Regions from separate parts of the Homo sapiens genome. Here regions 2 and 3 are each linked to region 1. The links come from fine-mapping of genetic effects on gene expression. A gene starts in region 1. Each other region holds a variant in brackets. All regions are shown on one strand. Distances are between the middles of the regions. Region 1 holds the start of GPR55 (G protein-coupled receptor 55). Region 2 overlaps GCSIR (GPR55 cis regulatory suppressor of immune response RNA). Region 3 has its middle 19 kb from the start of SPATA3-AS1.

Region 1 (8,225 bases):
AGCTGACCGTGCAGGGGAGTCATCCGGGCTCAATGTTTAAGTGGGGCTTGGTGGCCGGATGCAGTGGTTCACACCAGTAATCCCAGCACTTTGGGAGGCCGAGGTGGGGGATCGCTTGAGTCCAGGAGTCCGAGACCAGCCTGGGCAACATGGCAAAACCCCATCTCTATTTTTACAAAAAATAAAATAAAATAAAGAAGTGGGGCTTGGGAACAGAAGTGTTCCCGGCAGAATGGGAGGGGAGAGGCCAGATGGGGAGCCATAGGATGGGGCCTGGGGCAAGTCCCTGCCTAGCCCAGCTCTTGGAGCTCAACCCTTTGAGTCTGTCTCCAGGCCGCACCTGGAGGGTTGGAGCAGAGGGTGGGGGCAGGTGCTGCTCATCTTCCTCTCTTTGCCTCTTCTTCCTGAGTTCCCCTGCCTTCCTCTCTCTGTTGGGGCTTCCTCTGATTTTTAGGACCCCTTTTCCTTGGATCATGAGGGTCTCATTATCAATGTTCCTCCTTTTTTTTTCTTTTCCTTCAAATAGACCCAGCAGGGGAGACAAAGGCAGGCATAAATCAACGAGGAATGGGGGCCTCAGTCACTGCTTGAGTACCAGGCACTTCCTGGGTACACTTACCCCTGTTACCATGCCGACTCCTAAAACAACGTTTTCTGAGACAGGTACTGTCATCTGTCTTCACCACCACTGCCTGGTCCCTAGGAGATGATCCACAAACATTTTTTGATTGAATGGATGTGTAACTCCAATTTGCGGCTGGGGAAATGGGCTCAGAGAGGTTAGGCAACCAGCCCAAGCTGACAGAGCTGCTTTGTGGGGAGTGGCGGCCAGAGACCTGCTGAGGCTATCTTCAGAGTCCGGCTGCCTCAGATGCCCTGGATCCTTCTTTCAGACACTCTGACGCCCCCACTCCTGCCCTCATTCCTTCTTGTTGCTGCTGGTGCCCTCATCCCAACCCAACCCCTGCTGCCCCAGTGGGTCTGTCACATGCTGCCCCTGTGCCAAGCGTGTGTTCCCTGGGACCCCGGGGCGGCCCGTGCCCCTGGTTCCTGCCTGGCCAGCTTCCAGCCTCGGCTCCTGCCATTCCCCCCTTACCCTGGTGCAGAGGGTGCCCGGGCCCTCACCAACCCCGTGCCCCTCCTGCCTGTGCCTGCACCTGGGCTGCCCTCCTCCAGCATCCTCCTCCCTCCCCGTGTCTCTTAGGGTTCAGCTCTTGCCCCTGCCCCTGTTCCCTGACCAGCTCTCTGGGGCAGGCTTGGGAGCACTTCTTGCACAGCTCTGGGCCAAGTGGTCACCCTGCAAACCCCCTGGTGGGCAGGTTTCCCCCCTTGGAGGGAAAGGATGCCCCACGAGGGCAGGGCCAGGCCTCTGGCTGCTGAAGGAGCGAATTTCACCAGCGTCAGGGGAGGATGTGGTGAGCGCCCAGCTATCCTGGACCCGCTCTTTGATAAACACAGTCAGATTCACTTGTTCCTTGCCCTAGAAGAAGCTGGTTCCTGAAGCTCCGAAGCTGCTCCACTGGTGAAGTCGAAGGTGTGTGCCCCCAAACCCCCCAACTCGGGGCTCCCAGCCTGGAAGACAGGCAGGGACCTGCCCAGGCTCCCAAAACCTCCAAGTGATTCTGGATGGTGAGAGGGTGGGCAGGACTAGGGGGAGAAGTTTCAGGAGGCTTAAGGGAAATTTTCTGAGAAAGGTCTTCCTATTTATGACTCCCCAGGCCTGTGGCAAGGGGAGGCGAAAAGCTCGAGGGACAGGCCTGAGCCTTAGGACGGGGCCTTGGGCGAGTCCCTGCCTAGCCTTGCTCTTAGGAGCTCAAACCTTTGAGTCTCTCTGGAGACGTATCTTGGCAAGGGATCCCCCATATACCTTGGATATCCCCCAAGGTATCCAAGGGATACCCACAGGAGAGGGAGGTGGACAATGCCTTCTACTGCAGAGCAGCTCGTGTGGTCTCTAGCTTCTGTGTCAAAAGAGGGAGAAAATAAGAGCTCAGGTGTACACGGGCGGGCACAGAAACTCTGGAAGAAACTTAACAGTGGTGCCCTGGGGGGTAGGTGAGAGCTGGATTTAGGAGTGGGACAGATATTTTCCTATATGTGTTTACATATGTATTTGAATCATGTGCATGTTTTCAAAAATTTAAAAATTTAAAAATTTTAATATTGCAACAGCAATAAAGTAGAAATATTCATTTCTTAAAAGAAGGTAGCCAGGGCCGGGAGCGGTGGCTCACATCTGTAATCCTAACACTTTGGGAGGCCGAGGTGGGTGAATCACGAGGTCGGGAGTTCAAGACCAGCCTGACCAACATGGTGAAACCTTGTCTCTACTAAAAATACGAAAAAAGTTAGTCGGGCCTGGTGGCACAAGCCTGTAATCCCAGCTACTCAGGAGGCTGAGGCAGGAGAATCACTTGAACCCGGGAAGTGGAGGTTGCAGTGAGCCAAGATAGTGCCACTGCACTGCAGCCTGGGCAACAGAGCGAGACTCTGTATCAAAAAAAAAAAAAAAAAAAAAAAAAGAAGGTAGCCAGAATGGGAGTAGACAAGGCTCCCTTTGAGAAGGGGCTGAGCAGAGACACTGCTCCCTGCAGGCCACTCAGTGTGGATGCCTTCCTGGGGCCTCACATTGCAGGCTCTGGGTATGGAGGTGGGTGCCAGACACCGGTGTGTTTCCTCCCTGCTACTGTCCCAGCAGGCTCCTGGCCTCCTCCCGCACCCAGGGTGCGGGCCTGGCTGCCCCCCCTTGCCCAGTAGCCAGCCTTTGGCTTAGATTGGGCTGGTGGCCCAGTAGGGGGGCCTCGCTGGGGGCAGGACTGCCCTGTGCCCTGTCTTGGCACCCAGGCCAGCTTGGGGCTCCACGGCCTGGAGCAGGCAGTGGACTTGGCACTGCCCATCGCACAAGCCCAGGTGAGAGCTTAAAAGTTGTCATGGTTCCATCAACCTCTTCACCAGACAGTGGGAAGACCCAGCTCCAGAGGGCCAGGTGGTTCCCCTGCAGTGACTTGCAAGGTGTTATTTACAGAGGGGACCCATGTGTTGGATGAATCATCCAAAAAACCCAGGAGTAGTTTCTATTCCTGTAGACACCTGAAAGTCCCAGCACGCATAGCTTTTAAAAATTGCTTGTGTTTGGTCCTCCGACAGGGCCTCCCAGCACCTCCAGGGCATGAGAGCTGCATCTGCCGGGGTAGTTTCAGCCCAGACTTTCCTGATGGGCTGGAATCTATGAGGGCTCCCAGCTAAGAGCCACCCAGGCCCACGGGTGAGTCTCAGCCCTCCCAGCCCTGAAGGTGGGAGATGCCAGGGAAATCTCTGCTTGCAGGGCCCTAGGAAGCCACAGGCCCAAGGCTGCCCCAAATCTCTGTGCAGGCCTGGGACAGAGAAGCCGAGGCTGGGGAACCTGTGGGGCCCCACTGACCATTCTTGCAGACACACATGCAGTGGCTGAGGTCTCCTCCGACGCTAGGCACGCAAGTCCTAACCTGCAAGTACTAAATAGCACCACCTTCCTTTCCTTTCTGTGGGCAGCAGTTTCAAATCCTAAACCCCCAAAGTGCTGGAAGCCACGACGGCCCTTGGCAGGTGCTGAGAATGGCTGCCCCTGTGTGGTGCCCCTGTTAGGGTGTCTGGGGTGCGTAGGAGGCTTCCTCCTCCAGAGGCTTCCCAGGGCTTGACACATGCAGTGTGATTTTTGGCTTTTTGGTTTTTTGTTTTGTTTTTTGGAGCTGCGGGAGGGGGGCGTGCAGATCTTCCAAGAGGGCGGGAGAGTGTAGACCCTCCTCCTGGAAACTGCTCCCCATGTCCACACTCTAGTTCCACACAGCCTCTCTGTAGACCCCAGAGCAAGAGCCCCTAAGCCAGACAGGGTGACACTGGAGCGGCTCAAAGAGCATCTGGTCCCACCCCTTTATTTCACTCACAAGGAAGTCGAGACCCAGAGAGGGGAAGTGACTCTCCCCAGAACAGGCTGACAGCCAGGCCTGGAGGAGAAATGACATCTCTCAGCCCTCTCAGCTGCACCGGACCACCAACAGGTAACAGCCTCTGGGCCATTTAGAGAAACTAAGGCACGGAGCCTCCAACCTGACCTTGCTCTTGTGGACTGCAGGTAACTCTCCTAAGATCAGTGGGGCTTGTGTGGGCCTGGGCTTTGTGCACACCTGTCCCAACTCAGCGAGCAGTCCCAGGTGTCAGGGCAGCGGCAGCCTCCAGGCAGCCTCCGTGACAGCAGCAGCGGCAGGCAGACCTGGTTTGTCCCCGATTACGAGTGACATTTTTCTACGAACCCTCAACTTCCTCCTGATCTGACTCAGGGTTGCAGCATCATGTCGGGTCGGGAAACCTCCCCATAGGCAGCCTGGGAGCCTTCCCGGGGCATGTAGCTCACGTGCCACCGCCCTCCACCAAGCCCGCCGCCCATTCCCCAGAATCTTGTTGGGAAACCACCAAGCGCCCGAGATGACACACTCTCAGGGATCATCCTGCAGCCCTGAGCAAGTGCTTACTGGGGACCAGAAGGAGCCTGGGAGCCCAGGCTCACCCACTCACCAGCTGCGTAATTTCTCTAGCCTCCGTTTACCTCTCTGGGGCATGAGGCAATACACGGTTTCTTCCTCACGGGGCGCTCAAGGGCAGTAAATGATGGAGAGGAAAGCCCTGGTTGCTATCCTACATTATAGCTGCATTGTTCTCTAACCCTAGCCAAGTGTCTCTTGGAGAGGCTGGGCGGGAAGACACAGCAGCACTTAGAACCCTGAACATTCTAGATTCTTCCCTGAGAGTGAGAACACAAAGTCAGGACATGTCTGGCTGGCCTGGCTTCACCTGGGCTTTGTGCTGCCCGAGGCAGTGGGGATGAGAGGACAGGGCAGGGCAAAGTGCCGCCCACAGCTCTGTGGAAGGCAAGGTTTGCCTTTGGTTCTGAGCGGCTGTCCCAGCTGTAAAGGGAGCACCAGTCACTGTGGAGCTGCAGCAGACCTGGCCATTTGTTCCGTCATTTCTTCACCCCCTCTTTCATGCAATAAGACCTTCCCAACGACAAACTGTATGTGAGGCTCGGTGATAAAGGTGAAAGGGACATGGTCCTGGTCCTGGGGTTGCTGGAGGACAGCAGGGACACGCTCCCCCTGGGATACACAGAGGACTTTTCAAGGCACCCACTCAGGACTGCACTGGGAAAACCACATCAGATGATGTGGGTGAACCTGGGAAGTGGGCATTTCAAGGAAGAGGTGGGATTTTTAGCAGTGGAGGAGAGAGTCCAAGGAGAAAGAGGAGCATGAGCATGCAAAGAAGTGAGGAGGGGGCTTGGCAACTCCTGGATCCCAGATGCTCTTGCTTGTGATGCTGATGGGGGCCAGGGTGAGCGAGGAGGAGAGACTCAGAACATGAGTTCCAGCTGGTCCCTCACGGCCTTTTTGACCTTGGGTAGAATCTTTAACATCTCTAAGCCTTACTGTCCTTATCTGTAAAATGGGCATAATTAGGGCAATCTCCTAGGAGTGTCCTGAGTTCCCATCGTAGATCACTGAGCACACTGCTGGCCACCTTTCACGTCCCCAAGCCGGCCCCTCCCCTCTCCCAGCCCCACTCCAACCCCCCAGCCCAAGCTCCAGCAACATTCAGGCATTGGGGAGATTGTGGTCATGTGCTCTGTCCCCTCTGTGTCCTGTTCCTTCTTCTATCGTGGCCCCCAGAAGCCCAGCTCAGGCACAGGCGGATGACTTTATTCACACTATGGTGTTACTGGTGGATACGCTGTGTATTCTAACTGCGGCATTTTTGGGGGAGTATTCCAGGGCTCCTCAAATCCATCCCTGCGGCTGTGCCAATGCTGCTTTTTTAGGCTCTGGCCCTGCCATCTCTGAGGTGGCTCACGCTGCAATGCTCTGTGCAGATAACAGCCTGGCAGCTGCAGGAAGGGCCACCTTCTCAGTTGCAACCCTCCTTAGGGTTGTGATCTTCTTGTTGCTTGTGTTCTCTGGAAAGTCCAGGCCACAGAGGGAAGAAAGGTAGGTCTGGTGTGGAGCCACATAGCTGGGTTTCGAGGTCTCAGCTGTGCAGGCAAAGCCACAGGGCTGCCGCAAGTGGGACACTGGATCCTTGAGGGTGTGGGCGGATGAGGGTACCATGGACCACTGGCAGTTGCGGGAATCCCAGCTGCAGAATGTGTAGAGTCAGCAATTAAGAACCAGCACAGGCCGGGTGCTCGGGCTCACGCCTGTAATCCCAGCAGTTTGGGAGGCAGAGGCAAGAGGATTGCTCGATCCCAGAAATTTGAGGCCAGCCTGGGCAACACAGTAAGACCTTGTCTCTACAAAAAATAAAAAATTAGGCCAGGAGCGATGGCTCACACCCGTAATCCCAGCACTTTGGGAGGCAGGTGGATCACCTGAGGTCGGGAGTTCGAGACCAGCCTGACCAACATAGAGAAACGCTGTATCTACGAAAAATACAAAATTAGCCGGGCGTGGTGGCACATGCCTGTAATCCCATCTACTCAGGAGCCTGAGGCAGGAGAATTGCTTGAACCTGGGAGGCAGAGGTTGCAGTGAGCCGAGATCACACCATTGCACCCCAGCCTGGGCAACAAGAGTGAAACTCCATCTCAAAAATAAATAAATAAATAAAAATAAATTTTAAAATCAAAAAATAAAAAATTAATTGGGTATGGTGATGCATGCCTGTAGTCCCAGCTACTCGGAGGGCTGAGGTGGGAGGATTGCTTGAGCCTGGGAAGTTGAGGTTGCAGTGAACCTCAATTGTGCCACTGCACTCCAGCCTGGGTGACAAAGCAAGATGCTAACTTAAACAAACAAACAAATCAGCACATTGAGGCCAGGGCTCCGGGCTCGGGGCTGAGCAGGGCCTTGAGGATGGAAGAAATGAGACGGAAACCCCCAAGCAGAGGGAGCCAGGAGGAGAAGCAAGGCCTCTGTGCTCCACCCCAGTCCCTTTCCACACGTCACATACTTTCTCTCCTTTTCACCAAACATTGGAAAACAGCCTTATATTGAAAGGAGATTCTACTTCAGGGTTAAAAATCAACAAACAAAAACACCCTTCAGTAAGACACGGCTGTGTGCATGAATTCCCTCTACAGCACCCTGGATAAGCACATAGCCCTGCCTTTGCTTGCATACCTCTGGTGACAGAGAGCCCTCCACATGACGAGGCTGCTTTGCTTTGTCTACTCTCAGACACTCTGGCTGCGAGATAGGTTTGCTTTCTGCAGCACCTGGAACCCATTCCTTTTCTGACCCTGTGAAGTCTTATGGTGGAACACGTCACGATCACTGGAGGATGGATGACCTTGTGCCTTTCCCTCTAGGGATTAGGAGCATCTCTAGGCCTTTCTGCATCTTCTCCCATGCTGTGGTTCCCTAGCCCCTCCGAGTTCAGCCCCTGCAGACAGACAGCCTCGGGTCCTAGGGTGATCAGAGCTGTGCATTGGCCATGGTCACTCCCATTCCACTTCCAGGATCTTTGAGTGTAGCCTTGGCTCACCTCGTTTCTCCCTTTCATGTTTAAAAGAACACTTAGGAATTCCCACTTTCCTTAAAGTGGTGACTGCGTTTGTGTTTTGTGTATAAATATTGTTTCTTTACAATATTTCAGCAATGTACGTCTGATTTTGTCTCTGACTCACACGTGAAGAGCCTGTGTAAAAGAATGCATAGAAATGCCTGTATTTTTAATATGGCACTGCAGCTAAGTGGTCAGGACCAACAAACAGCTATTTTCTTTGTGGTCCGAGAATGAGGAGTGTAAAATTGCCATTGCCTGTGCTCGGGAATGGGGTAAATTTTGTGAAAGACACTTCTATTCTTCTAAAGAGAGCATAGACCCTTGATTTATGATGTACTTCTCCCTGATCTGCTAGTCTACCTTATTAGTTGGGTTGTTCAGAGCTCTAATTTCTGTCTATTTTGATCATGGGTATTCCACAGGAGGGGCACTAAGGGCTCCAGCTACATTATATTTCCATTTTTTAAAATTTCTTTTGCATTTCCTGCATGGTCCCATTATGTACTTGTTTGCTGTGCTAATTGGAACAGAAATTGAGTGTTTTAAGTTTTCATTATTTATTGTAACTTTCACTCTTGTGGAGTCTCCATGTTACTTTCTCAATTCTTTTTACTAAAAAAAAAATTACTTTGTCCTATTCCCTTCCTTTCTAGCACAAAATGTGCCTGATAAACCAAAGATTATGCTATCATTTT
Region 2 (8,225 bases), 23 kb after region 1:
CAAAGGGATGGAGATTGCAAAGGTGCTTGAAATGACTGAGGCCTGATAACAGTTGTAGAGATTCCTAGAGGTTAAAAAGGATTCAGTTAATAGACCAGTGCGGAAAGAAATTGGGCAGAGCCACTGTGTGGGTGTGAGGAGAGGCTGGCGTGCAGAACAGTCAAGAGGCAAGGGTGGGGACATCCCCATAGCAGGAGGAGCTGTGTGGGGATGCCCACGCCAGACCACCCTTCAACTGTCCTCAAGAGTCAGTTGTACTGTGGACAGCGACTTTCCAGGGCCAAATAAAGGCTGGCAGGGACCACTTGACAACCTTACCACTGCGGGGGGACAGAGGACTCAAAGACATGCCAAAGGTGCCTTTTCTGGGTGAGCACTCCCCTGAAACTACCATCACAGGCCCCACTGGCTTTTTCCACCCAGAGCTGGCTTCTCTAGTGAGCCGAGGGCACAGAGCCATGAACAGCCATTTGAGGGGGTGTGGATAGCAGGTCAAGAGGGACTCCAGGAGCTTGAAGTGGAAGGACAAAACAGACGTCCCTCTGCCCCACTGCAGGCCTGAGCGCTCCCTCCCAGGCCAGGAGCCTGCAAGATATGACCTCCTTGCAAAGCTGTTGCAGAAAAGGCCACATGGTGCCTCAACCATGAGTCACGACAGAAACGTGGCCCTTTGTGCTTTGAAGTCTCGTGAGGTAGGATCAGAAGCACTGTCACTTCAAAGCCAGACGCGGCTCTGGTTCACTTTTGAGGCTTCAGATGACAGCTTTATTCCGGAGGCCCACGCCTGAGTGAGTGTAACAAAGACGCTGCCTGCAGGGGGGACCTGCATCTCCACCGGGGCCAGCACAGTTATGCAAAGGCTGCTTAGGGTGCAGACAGATGTCTCCAAAAAGCCTCTCTTCTCAGTAGGTGGCTTTGGGCTGTGCGTAGTGCAGATGAGAATGCATACACACGTGTGCGTTTCTCGTTCAAGTGGTGTCTCGGAGCGGCTTGCCGGTGGAGGCCACACAGAGTTTAGGAAAGTTGTGCCAGAGTTGACTAGATCTGGCTAAACCCAGATTTTCCAAACAGCCGATTCCCCAAGTCAGTGCCTAGTGCATTTCAGACGGAATGACCCTGACTGGGGAAAACTGATGTCCAATGACCCAGTGATCGCTGTGTGAGCCCCCAGCCAAAGCACAGTTCTGGGAGTGGGTGGAGGGGTTTCCCTGAGGGCAGTGGAGAAGCCTTGAGGCCAGTGGGCCTGGAGTGGTTAAGGAGGGCTCCAGAGGACCGGCTCAGGGTGGGACATGTTTGTGGGGATGGGTCTCCAGACAGCATTAGGTAGGTGGAGAGACCTCTCCCTCCCCAAGATGGGCCACGCGTTGCTGGGCACTGGGCACTGGGCACTGGGTGTGGCCCCCTTCGGCAGTAGATACCAGCCTCTTTGCTGTGGATTTCCTTCAGTTTCCTAAATCTTCAGTACCAACTTCAAGTCGCAGCCAGGGCACAGCTTTCACCAAGGGGAATCAGTATGAGCTTTACAGCAGAGCATGAGACCCAGAGATGCCTGGAGGGGGGAACCCACAGAAAATAGGACTTCCCATATTAATGGAGTGTGAGGAGCAAAGTCATTATTCTCTGAGTATTATTAAAGGGTATATGACCCCAAAGACAGGACTATTTCAATTATATGAACAAAGTGGGATGAAATTGATGGTTAAGAGATCTGTCAGCTATTGATATTTCTTCCCTGGGACTTTACACTGCAAAAAACACCCATATATGGCAAGTATGTTGTCAGTCTACCTGAGCTGCCATAATAAAACACTGCAGACTGAGTACCTTAAACAACAGGAATTTATGTCCCACAGTTCTGGAGGCTGGAAGTCTCAGATCGAGGTCTGGCAGGGTCAGTTTCTGGTGAGGCCACTCTTCCTGGGTTGCTGATGACCACCTCCTCACTGTGTCCTAAGAGGCAGAGAGAGAGGAAACAAACTCTCTGGTGTCTCTTCTGCTAAGGACATTAATCCTACAGGATCAGGCCCCACCCTTACTTCATTTTACCTAAAAGCCATGTCTCCAAATACTGTTACACTGGGGGTTAGGGCTCCAGCATGTGAATTTTGGGGGGGACACTTCAATTCACAGGAACGGCTTCTAGGCTAACCTGGAGTAGAAGTCACACTTCTCTTATTTCTTCAAATTGAACGTAACTTGCCCTAATTCACCAAGGTTTACTGGAGGATGCTCCAGCTCCATTTCACTGGATCCCTTCCGCCCCCAAGATCCTGCGCGGGTCCTAGCTGGGGCATCCCTTGATGACTGCACTGTTTGCAGAGAACCCTGGGTTTCAGTCCACACTGGTCACAGCCATGGTGCCCATCGAGGACTGGGCCTTTCAACAGAGGCATCCGTATGACACTTGGGCACGCAGCTCACTCCTGCAGGCCCCAAGCCCTCCGCGTTAAATGCTCTCGCACCTTCATGTCTGAGGCTCCTTCAGCAGAATGCTTGTCTGGGCTCTTCTTGGGAACCACAGTAGCCCTGCACCTTCCCCGGCTGACCTTTGGACTCACAAACCTAGCATCCTTTTCAGGTAGGGCTTTAGGCAGCCTCTGAGAATGATGAAAGCTCTGGCACTAGGTCTTTTGTTTTGTTTTTCCGTTTGTTTGTTTCGTTTTAAGACAAAGTCTCACTCCTGTCTGCCAGGCTGAGTACAGTGGCATGATCACAGCTCACTGCAGCCTCAACCTCCTGGGCTCAAGGGATCCTCCTGCTTCAACCCCCTGAGTAGCTGGGACTGTAGGTGCACACCACAATGCCTGGCTAATTTTTGTATTTTTTGTAAAGACAGGGTCTCGCCATGTTGCCTGGGCTGGTCTTGAACTCCTGGGCTGAAGCAATCTACCTGCCTTGGCCTCGCAAAATGTTGGGATTACAGGCGTGAGCCACAATGCCCAGCAGGCCATGGGGTCTTAATTCATCTCGTGCCATCGATCCTCCTGCAGTCAGGAGGAAGCCTGTGGACCTTCCCCAGAAGGGCAGTTTCACATGCATCAAGTAAAAATGCATGGAATTAGAGAGGAAACCAGATATATGGAAATGTAGTCACCAACGTAGCAATATATGTTTCTTTAGGCACTGGATAACAAGATCTAGTGATGGGTTTAATGATTATCATAATTTTGAATTTATGATGAACTGAGAAGTTATTTTGAATTATCTGCAGCAACTGTAGTGGGATATGAGAGTATCTGTGATGTCTATTGGTGACAAGTCCCAGGAACCACACCATCTATCGTACTGTGGTGTGATGTCTACGTGCGTAATGGAAGGAAATGCTACCTTCAGTTAGTGATTAGTGAAAATAGCATGTAATGTTTTCCCTCAGCAAGTTCATGACACCCGTGAATTCTACTCCTGATCCCCAGGTTGAGAACTTTTGGGTTAGGCAGAGACATAAGGAACCTGGGCACAGGTGTTCTTCCTCTGGTGAAGGATCATTTGTGTGCCCGCTTTGTTATGCAAATGTGAGCCCCCAGGGTCCCATCCTCTTCCTCTTGGGGTTTGGGCTGACCCAGGACCTTTGTTTGTGGGGCTTAGAGAAGCTGGCCGGCCCTCTTTGTATGCCGCACTATAGGAAGCAGAGTCCCAGGGCCCTCTGAAAGCAAAGACACCCATATCCCAGTCCCCAATCTCAGAGATGCAAAGTCAGGGATACCTGTCTAGGAGTTGTAGGGCAATCCAAGAATCAGTGGCAGGGGCAAGCAATGAGGCCCCCAAAATAAATCACCTTGTGTTAAGGGGGATCTCAACTGATAACACTGTTCTGGCCAGCATGGAACGTGGCTGATACTGGACACCCCTTCAAACCCAGCCGCCCTGCCCCAGGAGCTATGCTTTGGGAAGGGATGGCCGAGTGTGAAATGATAACTAAGAAGAGTCTTAAGCCTGAACCTCAACCACCAAGGGCATCCCAGCGTCTGGGGCAGCAGCGTCCCTCCTTGAGACACCAAGCTGCAACAGTG[T/A]CACCTTGTGACAGCTTGGAGAAACAGCAGCAGGGGCTGATGGAACCCTGGCTCTCCTCCCTCAGGTGTGGAAGCAAAGGAGGTCCCTGGGGTCTTTGAGTAATTTGGGGGCAAGTCTTCTGCCTAAAAGACCCATAGGGAAAAATAAATTAAGCAATAAAAGAAATTTGACCATTTTGTAATCTAAGTTGGTGAAGTAGGTCATACCAGTTTCACCATCATCATCGTCTTATATGATATTTTATTACTATTACTGCCTCCTGGCATGTATCTATGTAGTAAGTTCCACTATCAGAGGATGACCTTACCTACCTTTATGGTTTTGTTTTTGTTTTTGTTTTGTTTTTGAGACAGAGTCTTGCTCTGTTGCCCAGGTTGGAGAGCAGTGGTGCTATCTCAGCTCATGGCAACCTCCGCCTCTCGGGTTCAAGTGATTCTCCTGCCTCAGCCTCCCGAGTAGCTGGGACTACAGGCACCTGCCACCATGCCTGACTAATATTTTGTATTTTTAGTAGAGATGGAGTTTCACCCTGTTGGCCAGGCTGGGCTCAAACTCCTGGGCTCGAGTGATCCTCCCGCCTCAGCCTCCCAAAATGCTGGGACTACGGGTGTGAACCACTGCATCCGGCTCCCTAACCTTATGTTATAAAAGTTCTCATGAAAGTACTTGGGGTCACCTAATTGTCACCCCATCAAGCATCTCCAAGGCCCAACCACTCCCAGCAGATTCTGCCTTTGACACGATTGTGAGTCCTTTTCCCAATTCCTAATCCCCTCCTGTGGTATCCCCTGTCCCCACCACTGCAAACTACCACCCTTCTTCCAGCTTGCAGCCATCTCTCTCCTCCTGCTCTTCATCACCTGCTCTTAGGGGTCAGTTGCCTCTGGTATAACTTCTTGGCCAGGGTTGTTCCTCCAAGGACTATATACATTGAAACTGGGAGCAAAGCTGTAGTTCAAACCAAGAGAGAAACGCTTTTATAAATACTGTATCTCCAGTGACTCTGAAATTGCGGCAAACAGGCTGCACAGGTGGGGTCCAGCACCGACTTCCCAAGGCTGCACTGCATCTGAAACCAACCAAACCAGGTGAGGGGGTGGCATAAGGGAAGGAGCACTCCCTTGGCAGGATGGGGCTGGGGGGTGTTTCTGGTTGCTGTGCATTACCATCCATCTCCGTCACCCCTGGCCTTCAGGGAAGTCTCCCACCAGTTCTCCCTGGAGTCAGCTGTCCTTTATTGGAGAAAGAAAGGGGGAATGTGCTCCCTGTGGGCTCAGATACACGTGGAGGACAGTTCCTGTAGGACTCAGGGCTCAGAGGAGAATTTGGCAGTTTCTACGACTATGATGGGAGATGCTAGGGTTCCCACTGAATGTGGGATAAAATCACAAGCCCTTCTGCTTGGAGATTTAAAAAGGGGGGGTGACCCCATAAAGCTGGAGGAGTTGGGGCTAGAAACAGGTCTGTAACAAGACCTTGGCTTGAAGGGAACTATTGTGCAGACGTGGAAGCTGAGGCCCATGGGGGCATGAGCAGCACCAGCTCTCTGATGCCCTTGTAAGTGATTTTTGCATGGCACCCCATGCTAACACCCACTCTGGGTCTCTGTGTCCTGGCCCACCGTACCCACTCCAAAATCCTCTCAGGGCTCTTCAAAGATCCTGAGCCATCAAGGGGCGACCCATCTGCTCCCCAGTAGGGGCTGTCACAAGCCCACCCACTGGCTTCCACTACTCAATTGCACCTGGTCGAGAACAGGCTTATTCTCTCCTTGTCTGTTACACCTCATTTGGTCCTCCCTTGCACCGGTGTCCTAAGTAGAAATGCTCCTTCTTAATCACCTCTCACAGCAAGGTCTCGTGGCTCCCGTCCACCCTGTGTGCCTGGCACAGGCTGGGTGCAGAGCAGAGCTGATAAATACCTGGTGATTGACAGCTGCAGTCATCACCACTGCCCCAGCCCTCGCTTCAGACCAGGAAGCAACCGCAGGCTCAAAGACCCTGGGTCCTGGCCCCATAGCACCAGCTAATAATAACAGACAGCTAGGGGCTTGCTCCAAGCCCCTTATACCTGGCTGTGTGCAGAAGCCCTCTGGTAGGATTGATGATAATGCCGGGGTTCCTGGTGTGCCCCAATCACCAGTTAAGAAGATTCTCATATTTCTCTTAAGGTTCAACTAACAACTTTAAGTCCCTCAATATTATGAGAAGGGGCACTTGCAACTTAGATACAATTTCCAGTGATAGCATCATGTGGGGATTTAAAAAGTGCTGAATCTCTGTAACTGAGAGGAGACGGAGGTGACGTACCCTGAAAGTCACCGGTGACTCAAACCGTGGCTCAGGGGTGATGAGGAGACAGACACTCAAGATGCTGGTGACAGGTTGAGATGAAAAAATGTTCCATGAAATGTGAAAGTGGAAAGGAGTTACCTTCTGTGGAATTAAAAGATGTCTTGAAAACCAAATGCATTAACTCCTACAGGAGACATTTAAACAATTACATGCACAACCCTAATAGTTTGTATATTCAAGCTGGATCTTCTCACTTGGAAAAACAATCTCTTCTGTATGCGCATCTTCTTAATGGCCCACTGGGAAATGCCGTATACTCAGGGGTGCCCTGGGTTTGGGCATAGATGATGTACACCCCTAGTTCCTGGTGAAACCCAGGTCTGGGTGAATGGAGCAAATCCAGATCCTTCTAATGGGATAGGGAAGCAGACTGGCTCCTGTTCCCTGTCACTGAGTGATCCAAAGGACCAAGGCCAGGGACCCTTGCACCAAACCGTGCTGTCAGATTCTGTCTGCCAGCGGGGGAGCCCAGGGAAGCCCAGGGCCGCTGCAGTCACCTCCAGGCAGTGCACGTTGCTCAGCAACCTCTTTGCAACTGTGAGCTGCTCCACATCCCTGCGAAGAGCCTTCTTTTGCTTGAATTAGCTGGAGCTGGTTTCTCTTGCAGGGAACAAAGAAGCTTCCTGTTAGCAAAATGAAGTTTCCTGCTTCAGCAAGAGAAAGGCTCCTTATGGGGAGATGGGAGAGGGGAGTGGGAAGACAGAGGCCCTGGGTATGGGTGCTTGGAGATTCTCTCTTTCCTGGGGGTGAAGGGGAAAGGGAGAGGGAGATTGTATGGCCAGACCTCTTCCACAGCCTTAAAACAGGGATGTAAGCCCTTTTGACAATTTCACTTGAATTCCTTGGGAAATACCAGGTTAGGGTGTTTTCTTGGATGAAAACTCGGGTGGTGCAGGCAGCAAAGCCCATCATCGACGGCCCCAGGGAGCCACGTGCAGATTCTTCCCTTTCCTGCAGTGTGCCCTGGCCTGCAAGGCCCTGTCTAAGGACGCTGGGGTGGACTGAGGCTGCCACAGGAGGGCATGGAGGGTATGGAGGAAAAGGAAAGCTGCTTGATTCATCGGCATCTGACAAAGTGTTCTGTCTACACCATGCCTGCTGCACGAGGCACCTGGTCAGATGTTGGCCCTTGCTGCCCACTAAAGGTCAAAGAGGTGATGGGGATCCCCCTTCCCCACATCATCCCAGGAATTCTCTGACTGTCCTTGGGTCTCTCTGGGAAGACTTCTCGGAGCCCCTGGCCCCAGCTGGGGGTCCCTCCTCTGTGATCCCATGGCACCCTAACTTTCCACAAGGAACTGGGGTGAGTGAGGGTCTCTTGAGTGCAGGGAGCTCATTCAGGTTTATTATGGAAGCTGGGTGACAGTGATGGTTGCATGGTTGCACAACTTTATAAATTTTCTAAAAATTACTGAATTGTTAAACAAGAAAGAAGGAAGCAAAAGCTGTTTTGTTGAAGGATGTACATGGAAATAAAGAAGACAGGACTCTCAGCTCCGTGCAAGCCTGCCCGGGTCCCAGGACAGGCTCACAGCAAGACCTCCCGGGAGGTCCCCATGGGGCCTGGAACACGGCTCAGGTTTGGAAGGGCTTGAGGGTCCAGGGAAGTCTATTGGCTCTGCTCTATCCTTCCTGCCTTTCGGTCTCTGTCTCCTACCACCGTTGTCCCAGCTGGCGGCCACTATCTCTGCTGGCCTCTCCACCCGTGTCCATCACTGGCAGCCTGAGGATGGGCTACCTGTGAATCACGTGCTCCTCCCTGGTCCAGTCAACCACGGCGGAGGAGATGGGGCCATGTGAGATGCCGCCTATGGGGCCGCCTGGAGCTGCTACCTTCAGCAGGGGCCTGGCAGGTGCTCT
Region 3 (8,225 bases), 52 kb before region 1:
TTGAGACAGAGTCTTGCTCTGTCACCCCAGCTGGAGTGCAGTGGCATGATCGAGGCTCACTCCAACCTCCGCCTCCCAGGTTCAAGTGATTCTTGTGCCTCAGACTCCTGAGTAGCTGGGATTACAGACATGAGCCTCTGCACCCGTCCTAGGAAGATTTCAAAACGAAGATGAGTCTATTGTAATTTAGAGGGCCATTTTAAACTCCCTGTGTTGGTGGCAGATGGTTTGGGTCTGGCAGCTAGCTCTATCCCAACCTTCTCTATCCACCCTGCAACTCCCTCCCCTCCCCCTCACATTTTATTTTGAAATTTTCAAACATTCTGAAAAGTTCAAAGAAGAGTACAATGAACTTACCCTGGATTCTCCAACTGTTAACATTTTGCCACAATTGCTTTGTCTCTGTTGGTCTCTCTCTGTCTTTGTATATTTCCACATACTTTTATTTTGCTGAGCAATTTGAAAGCAAGTTGCTGACATCTTGACACTTCACTTCTAGATATCTCAGCATCTCCTAATAAGGATATTCTCCCACAAAACCACAATACCATGATCACAACCATAATAGCACCCAGTGTACTATCTGTATTCAAATCTCTACAGTTGTCCCCGGAAGAGCTTTTAATGCTGGATTTTTTTTTCCTATCCAGGATCCAATCAAGATCATGTATGATATTTGGTTGTTATGGCTCTTCAGTCTCTTTTCATCTGAAACAGTCTTTCACCTTTTTATTGTTGTTGTTGTTCTTTGTTTATGTGAAATTAGTTTTTGATAAAGAGTCCAGGACAGTTGTCTTGTAGAGTGTCCCATATGTGGGTTAATCTGATTGCTTACACAAGATTAGATGCAGGTTGAATATCTTTGGCCAGAGTTCTGTACTGCATAGGTGCCACTGTAGACTTCTCAGTCAAGTATCACATCTGGAGTAAATAATGTCAATATCACATCTGGAGTAAATAATGTCAGGCATCACAACTGGAGTAAATAATGTCAGTATCACATCTGGAGTAAATAATGTCAGTATCACATCTGGAGTAAATAATGTCAGTATCATATCTGGAGTAAATAATGTCAGTTATCACATCTGGAGTAAATAATGTCAGGCATCACATCTGGAGTAAATAATGTCAGGCATCACATCTGGAGTAAATAATGTCAGGCATCACATCTGGAGTAAATAATGTCAATATCACATCTGGAGTAAATAATGTCAGTTATCACATCTGGAGTAAATAATGTCAGTTATCACATCTGGAGTAAATAATGTCAGTTATCACATCTGGAGTAAATAATGTCAGGTATCACATCTGGAGTAAATAATGTCAGTATCACATCTGGAGTAAATAATGTCAGTATCACATCTGGAGTAAATAATGTCAGTATCACATCTGGAGTAAATAATGTCAGGCATCACATCTGGAGTAAATAATGTCAGGTATCACATCTGGAGTAAATAATGTCAGTATCACATCTGGAGTAAATAATGTCAATATCACATCTGGAGTAAATAATGTCAGGTATCACATCTGCAGTAAATAATGTCAGTATCACACCTGGAGTAAATAATGTCAGGCATTACATCTGGAATAAATAATGTCAGTATCACATCTGCAGTAAATAATGTCAGTTATCACATCTGGAGTAAATAATGTCAGGCATCACATCTGGAGTAAATAATGTCAGTATCACATCTGGAGTAAATAATGTCAGGTATCACATCTGCAGTAAAAAACATCAGTATCACATCTGGAGTAAATAACATCAGGTATCACATCGGGAGTAAATAATGTCAGTATCGCAACTGGAGTAAATAATGTCAGGCATCACATCTGGAGTTAATAATGTCAGGCATCACATCTGGAGTAAATAATGTCAGTATCACTTCTGCAGTAAGTAATGTCAGGTATCACATCTGGAGTAAATAATGTCAGGTATCACATCTGGAGTACATAATGTCAGTATCACATCTGGAGTAAATAATGTCAGGTATCACATCTGGAGTAAATAATGTCAGGCATCACATCTGGAGTACATAATGTCAGCCACTCTTGGTCATTCTGAGTTTGATCACTAATCCTCACTCTGCTTCCCCTTTTGTAAGTAATTTTTAGAATCTTCACATGGTCACAGGATTAACTGAATATCCAAGTCACCAAACAGTTTTGGCAACTCTTGGTGATGCTTACCTGAAGGAAGCATTACATTGGAGGTTGGAAAATGGTAGTTTTTCATTCTTTTATTCCTGCTACATTTACTAGCTGGCCTTTTTTTCTGTAAGAATTTCCAAATCCCACTATATTAAAAACATTAATCACTGTGGGTTCGTGGAGTTTTAAAAATGCTATAATTGAAACTACAGTTATTCATTTTGATGTTCAAATCATCCCACATTTGAGCAGTGGGAGCCCTCAGGTCAGCTCCTGAATCCTTTTGACATGATCACATTTATCTTCCAAAACTGTTTTGCTTTCTGGTGTGACAAGAGATTCCATGCTCACGTTGTACATTTTCACCCCTGACCTAGAATCTACCATTTCTCTAACGAGCCCTGGTGCCTTTAGTGGTGAATGGTATAGAGAAAGAAAGAACCTGGTGATATATGCGATCATTGCTACTCGGCTGTCATTCAGTGGACAGGATTAGAAAACTCATTTTAAAAAAAATTACAAGTTCAAACTGATATATTTCCTACTCAAATTTAACATTACAGTTTTTCTTTCACTTCTTTACTGACTACTAGTATCTTTTTTCCCCGTCAGTAAAATATATATTTGCTTATTTGCTTTCCACTATACATGCACAAAAGAGTTTCAGAATTACAAGACCAATATTACTGCTAACAGTAAACATACTAAATAGAAGTTTTTCTATAGTTCTTCTGTTCTTAGAACAGATCCTTCTCCACAATCAGAGTGTTTGCTCTGTGTGGTTGTGGTATCAGTTTGAGGCGTTATCAGTTTGATTTCCTTCTTTTGCATTCTATTGTAGGGTATTCTTTATCCCACCTTTTTAACATTTAATTTTATTTTTAAAATACGTGAAACATTTATGTAGTTAAAAAGTAAAAATGGGTTGAGAATAGTGGCTCACACCTGTAATCCCAGCACTTTGGGAGGCCGAGGTGGGAGAATTGCTTGAGCCCAGGAGTTTGAGACCAGCCTGGGCAACGTAGGAAGACCTCATTTCTACAAAAATAAATAAATAAATAAATAAATGAATAAATAAATAAATAAATAGCTGGGTACGGTGGCGTGTGCCACTGGGAGGCTGAAGCAGGAGGATTGCTTGAGCCCAGGAGGCTGAGGCTCCAGTGAGCCACTGCACTCCAACCTTGGTGAGAGAGCGAGACCCCGTCTCTGAAAAAATAAAAAAATAAAAAGTGACAATGATATGAGATATACAAGAGAAGCCTCACTGCCGTTCCTATCCCTTCTACCCCATTCCTTCCCACCTCCACGGTGAATGCCTTCCATTAGTGTCTGTTTAATACTGTATTTCTTTTCACAAAAATAACACATACACGTATTCATTTTCTCTTCTTTCCATATGAAAGATGGTATAATATATATCCTCCTTTGCATCTTACCCCGAACCTCATTATCCGTTCACACAGACCTCTCATGCTCACATTCATTCCTTCCCATTTCAGAACATTCTGCTGTCACATGGAACCTGTTCAGGGTTGGTTTTTGTCTAATCTATATTAATGCTAGTTATTTCAGAAGACCATGCAATACCCGTGAAAACTTCCCCTTCGCTCTCAGAAAGTTTGCACAAAAATCAACTCACAAAAGGCAGGTTAATTAGATAAAACACTATGAATTTATTTTAACGTGTCAAGCATGGGGAACTGTAGCAGAGTGATTATTCGATAACCCAGCGGGGTACATATGCTTATATACCCTTCTTCTTAGGGGAAAGGGAGATGGGGCAGTGTGGATGATTTTAGTTTAAGTGATTTTTAGAGAAATTCAATGGGCTTGAAGAACATACAATGGCCTGGGACAAAGTCTGTTGTGCCTGCAGAGTATACAACGGTTTGTGACAAAAGTCTGCCTAGCTGTGTTGATAGATGTCAGTCTTTCTTCCTGGATATGAGTTCAGTTCATGAAAATTTAGGAAGGGACCAGGAGTAATTGTTTTCTTCTTTAGTGAGTCTGGGCTTTAGGCAGATAAGGGAACTTCAGAGAACAACCTCATTCTGTGCTTTGAGAGAGACAGACTGAGACAGAGGCGGGGGTTGGGGGAGGTCAGAGAAATCTTGTGGCTTCTTCTTCAGTTCAGCATGTCACAGAGCCATATTTGG[G/C]GGTATTGGTTTCTGAGCCCCAGTCTCCATGATACCGGCTCCTTTTGAACTGGCATGACCTCTGGATTCTGAGAGTGTGAGAAGGCAATAGGGCGAAGGTCCAAATAAGGGTGAAGGACACAATGCAGGCTGTCCCCTCCTGTCTGGCCTCTAGTGTTCTTGTGTCTCTTGGGACGTGCGTGGCTTGAGAGATGGGTTTGCGGAGAGGGGCTTTGCCACTGGAGGATTATGAAGTGTTGCCAGGAGAGAAGTGGTTTCTGTGCCAAACACTTGCCTCACTCAAAGTGTAAACTTTTCAAAAATTAAGGCACAATTTATATAGCATAAAATTTGCCACTTTAACCATTTATTTTTCTTTCTTTCTTTCTTTCTTTCTTTTTTTTTTGAGACAGAGTCTTGCTCTGTCAGGCTGGAGTGCAGTGGCGCAATCTCGGCTCACTGTAACCTTGGCCTCCCGAGTTCAAGCGATTCTCCTGCCTCAACCTCCCGAGTAGCTTGGATTACAGGCATGCATCACCATGCCCAGGTAATTTTTGTATTGTTGGTAGAAGTGGGGTTTCGCCGTTTTGGCCAGGCTGGTCTTGAACTCCTGACCTCAGACGACCCACCTGCCTCGGCCTCCCAGAGTGCTGGGATTTCAGGCAGAGCCACCGCACCCGGCCCACTTTAACCATTTTAAAGTGTACATCCAGTGGCTTCAGTACGTTCACCGTCTCATTCAACCATAACATTTTTATCACCCCCAAAGGAAACCTCATACACATTAAAAAACCACGCCCCATTTCCCCCTCCCCCAGGCCCTGGCAACCACCAACCTACTTTCCGTCTCGAATGGATTTGCCTATCCTGGATATTTCATACATATGAAATCATACAATATGTGTCCTTTTGTGTCTGGCTTCTTTCACTTAGGTTCATCCAAGCTGCAGCATGCGTTGGTAGTGCCTTCTTTTTATGATGAAATATTCCGTTTTATGAATGTACTACAGTCTAGTTTATCCATTTACAGCTTATGGACAGCTGGGCTGTTTTTACATTTTGGTCACTGTTTTAACCTGTGTTTCTATTCTTCTGGGTACATACTAGAAATGGGACTTCTGGGTCATATGGAAACTCCATGTTTAAATTTTTTTTTTTTTTTGAGATAAAGTCTCACTCTGTCACCCAGGCTGGAGTGCAGTGGCATGACCTCAGCTCGCTGCAACCTCTGCCTCCCGGGTTCAAGCGATTCTTCTGCCTCAGCCTCCCGAGTAGCTGGGACTACAGGCATGTGCCACTACGCCAGGCTAATTTTTGTATTTTTAGTAGAGTCGGGGTTTCATAATGTTGGCCAGGCTGGTCTCGAACTCCTGACCTCGTGGTCTGCCCGCCTTGGCCTCCCAAAGTGCTGGGATTACAGGCGTGAGCCACTGCACCTGGCCCCATGTTTAAATTTTTGATGAACCAACAAATTGATTTCCACATCAGCTGCACCGTTTTACATTTTTCACAAGCAAAGTAGGAGGGTTCCGGTTTTCCCACATCCTTGCCAATGGTTATTTTCCATTTAAAAAATTATAGTCATCCTCGTGGGTGTGAGGCGGTCAACTGTTAATACCCTTTTTGACACAAGCTTCGGGTGTCAAAAGATATGCTCTAATGCTGCCCTTTGGCTTCACGAGGCTACTTAAAGCTTCCAATTTCCTGTAAATCATATTAGACTTTGTTATTGTTACATTAACTTGGTGATCCAAGGGACTCATGGCTGTAGGGGGGCAATCCTGTTATATTCTAAGTGCTGTGGTTTGAATGTGTCCCCCAAAGTTCATGTGTTGGAAACTTAATTGCCAGTGCAACAATGTTGAGAAGTGGCACGTTTAAGTGGTGATTAGGTCATGGGAACACAGCTCTCATGAGTGGATTCAGGCCATTATTGGGGTACTGGATTAGCTGTCACAGGAGTGACTTAGATATAAAATCAGGGAATTCTGCCCCTCTTTCCTTCCTCTCGCGTGTGTTCTCTCTCACGACGTGATGCCTTCCGCCATGGGATGGCCCTCACTAGATACCAGCACCACGCTCTTGGACTTCCCAGCTCCAGAACCATGAGCCAAATAAACGTCTGTGCCTTGTAAATTACCCAGTCTGTGGTATTTTGGTATAGCGGCAGGAGATGAACTAAGACACTATGCATGATGTTACCCTGAACATTTGCATGAAAACAGCTCTTTACATCACATAGCCACACTCAGAATGTGTTATGGGAATACAGAAAAACAGAGGTGGGGAGACGACATTAACTGTGGTGAGGGGGTGAAATAATCCTTGGGACCAGTGACCTTTAGGGGTCTTTTAAAGTGACTTGTGTGCTCAAAATAACTGGCCCGGGCCTGCGGAATCCGGGCATCCTGACAAAACCACATGAATGAGGAGAACGGCACTTTTCATGACCGGCCCCACCAGGGGAATTTTTCAGGCACGCATCTTACTCTGATGCTCAGGTCAGCTGGCTACCACTAGTGAGCCCAGGCCCAGAGGCTGGGGCACCCCAGTGAGTCAGAGCCCAGATCAGGGAGGGTGAGAATTACCACTTCCTGTCTATGAAAAACACTTAGATAAATGTCGGTTCCCACCATGGCTAAGAATCAAATAATATTCTTTCTTCGAGCCTCAACCTCAAGTGCCTGACAAACTCTTGAAAAACCCAAGGCACTGCCCAAAGTAGTTTACACGGGGAGGTCCAAGGTGGTTTCCCTATGGCTGGTTGATGATGTTAATTACGGTATTTTTCAGGATTGGCAGTCAAGCAGATGTTATTAACATTAACTAATTAATCCAGGTCTTATCGCATGTCACCTGACGCCAAGTAAAAGCACCAGAGAAGTTTGGAAGTGGAGAAATGCCACAGGGTGGATCAGGAAAGACAGGACAGAGGAGGGGCCATTTGTGTAAGACCTACCTGAAAGGATAGGTGGAAGGGGACAGTGGGAGGGAAGGGGAGGATTGAGGCAGGGAGGTAAAGGTGCCACCCCCACACAAGCATGGAGCAATGCCAAGTGTCCCAACATAGAATGGACTTCTGGATACATCCACTTTATCCCAAAATTATTATGACAATGTGATCAAAAGAGAATATTGTGGCCAAAATGTTAAAGTTTGACATTCCAGAACAGGAATAATTATATCTTGGCACCGTTCATGGTGACATTTCTTCCATAGCTACTGTACTGAATATTTACCAGGCGAAGAAGACACTTTCAACTGAAGTAAGTGGAGAAGTGACTATTTTGGGGAACCCCCAGGCTACCTAGGGCAGTCTCTTTAACCCCTAGGATCGAGGTGTAGTTATTAAAAGCATCCACTTTCATTGCCCAAAGTGTCCCAGTTTAGACAATAAACTATATGGTCACTCTATTTATCATGGATTTTAAATTATTTTTAAAAATTGTGGTAAAATAGACATAACCTAGAATTCACCATTGTAACCACTGTAAGTGTTGAGTTCAGTGGAATTAAGTTATGTTCACCTAGTACAACCACCACCAACTCCCCATCCCCCACTTCCCCCAGCTCCTGGCAACCAACCATAATCCTAATTTCTATGTCTATGCATTTGACTACCCTAGGTACCTCTTTAAGTGGAATCATACGGTATTTTTCTTTTTGTGATTGACTTATTTGACTTAGTATAATGTCTCCAAGTTTCATCCATATGAGAGCATGGGTCAGAATCTCCTTCCTTTGTAATGTTGAGTAATACTCCACTGCGTGTGTATTCGTCTGTTCTTGCATTGCTATAAAGAAATACCTGATACTGGGCCAGTCACGATGGTGCATGCCTGTAATTCCAGCACTTTGGGAGGCCAAGGTGAGAGGATCACTTAAGTCCAGGAGCTCAAGACCAGCCTGTGCAACATGGTGAAACCCCATCTCTACAAA

Evidence for each region. PIP is the estimated chance that this variant, and not a neighbour inherited with it, causes the effect.
Region 2: its variant is fine-mapped to the expression of GPR55 in whole blood (TOPMed, PIP above 0.99).
Region 3: its variant is fine-mapped to the expression of GPR55 in whole blood (TOPMed, PIP above 0.99).

What each region holds. Positions count from the first base shown.
Region 1 is chr2:230,920,980-230,929,204 of GRCh38, reverse strand. It overlaps GPR55 (G protein-coupled receptor 55), which reads left to right and starts at 3,963. Exons shown (of 2, transcript NM_005683.4): 1 at 3,963-4,037. RefSeq lists a silencer at 2,527-2,706 and enhancers at 2,927-3,156, 3,977-4,026, 4,147-4,266, 3,830-4,618.
Region 2 is chr2:230,898,114-230,906,338 of GRCh38, reverse strand. It overlaps GCSIR (GPR55 cis regulatory suppressor of immune response RNA), which reads right to left. Exons shown (of 4, transcript NR_038238.1): 4 at 1,822-1,950. Among named protein-coding and RNA genes, the nearest start is that of GCSIR, 16 kb to the right of the region's middle. RefSeq lists silencers at 3,802-3,861, 3,932-4,011. The variant T/A (reference allele first, on the strand shown) is at 4,011.
Region 3 is chr2:230,972,988-230,981,212 of GRCh38, reverse strand. No RefSeq gene overlaps it. Among named protein-coding and RNA genes, the nearest start is that of SPATA3-AS1, 19 kb to the left of the region's middle. RefSeq lists enhancers at 4,095-4,144, 5,249-5,368, 6,783-6,922, 7,043-7,092. The variant G/C (reference allele first, on the strand shown) is at 4,308.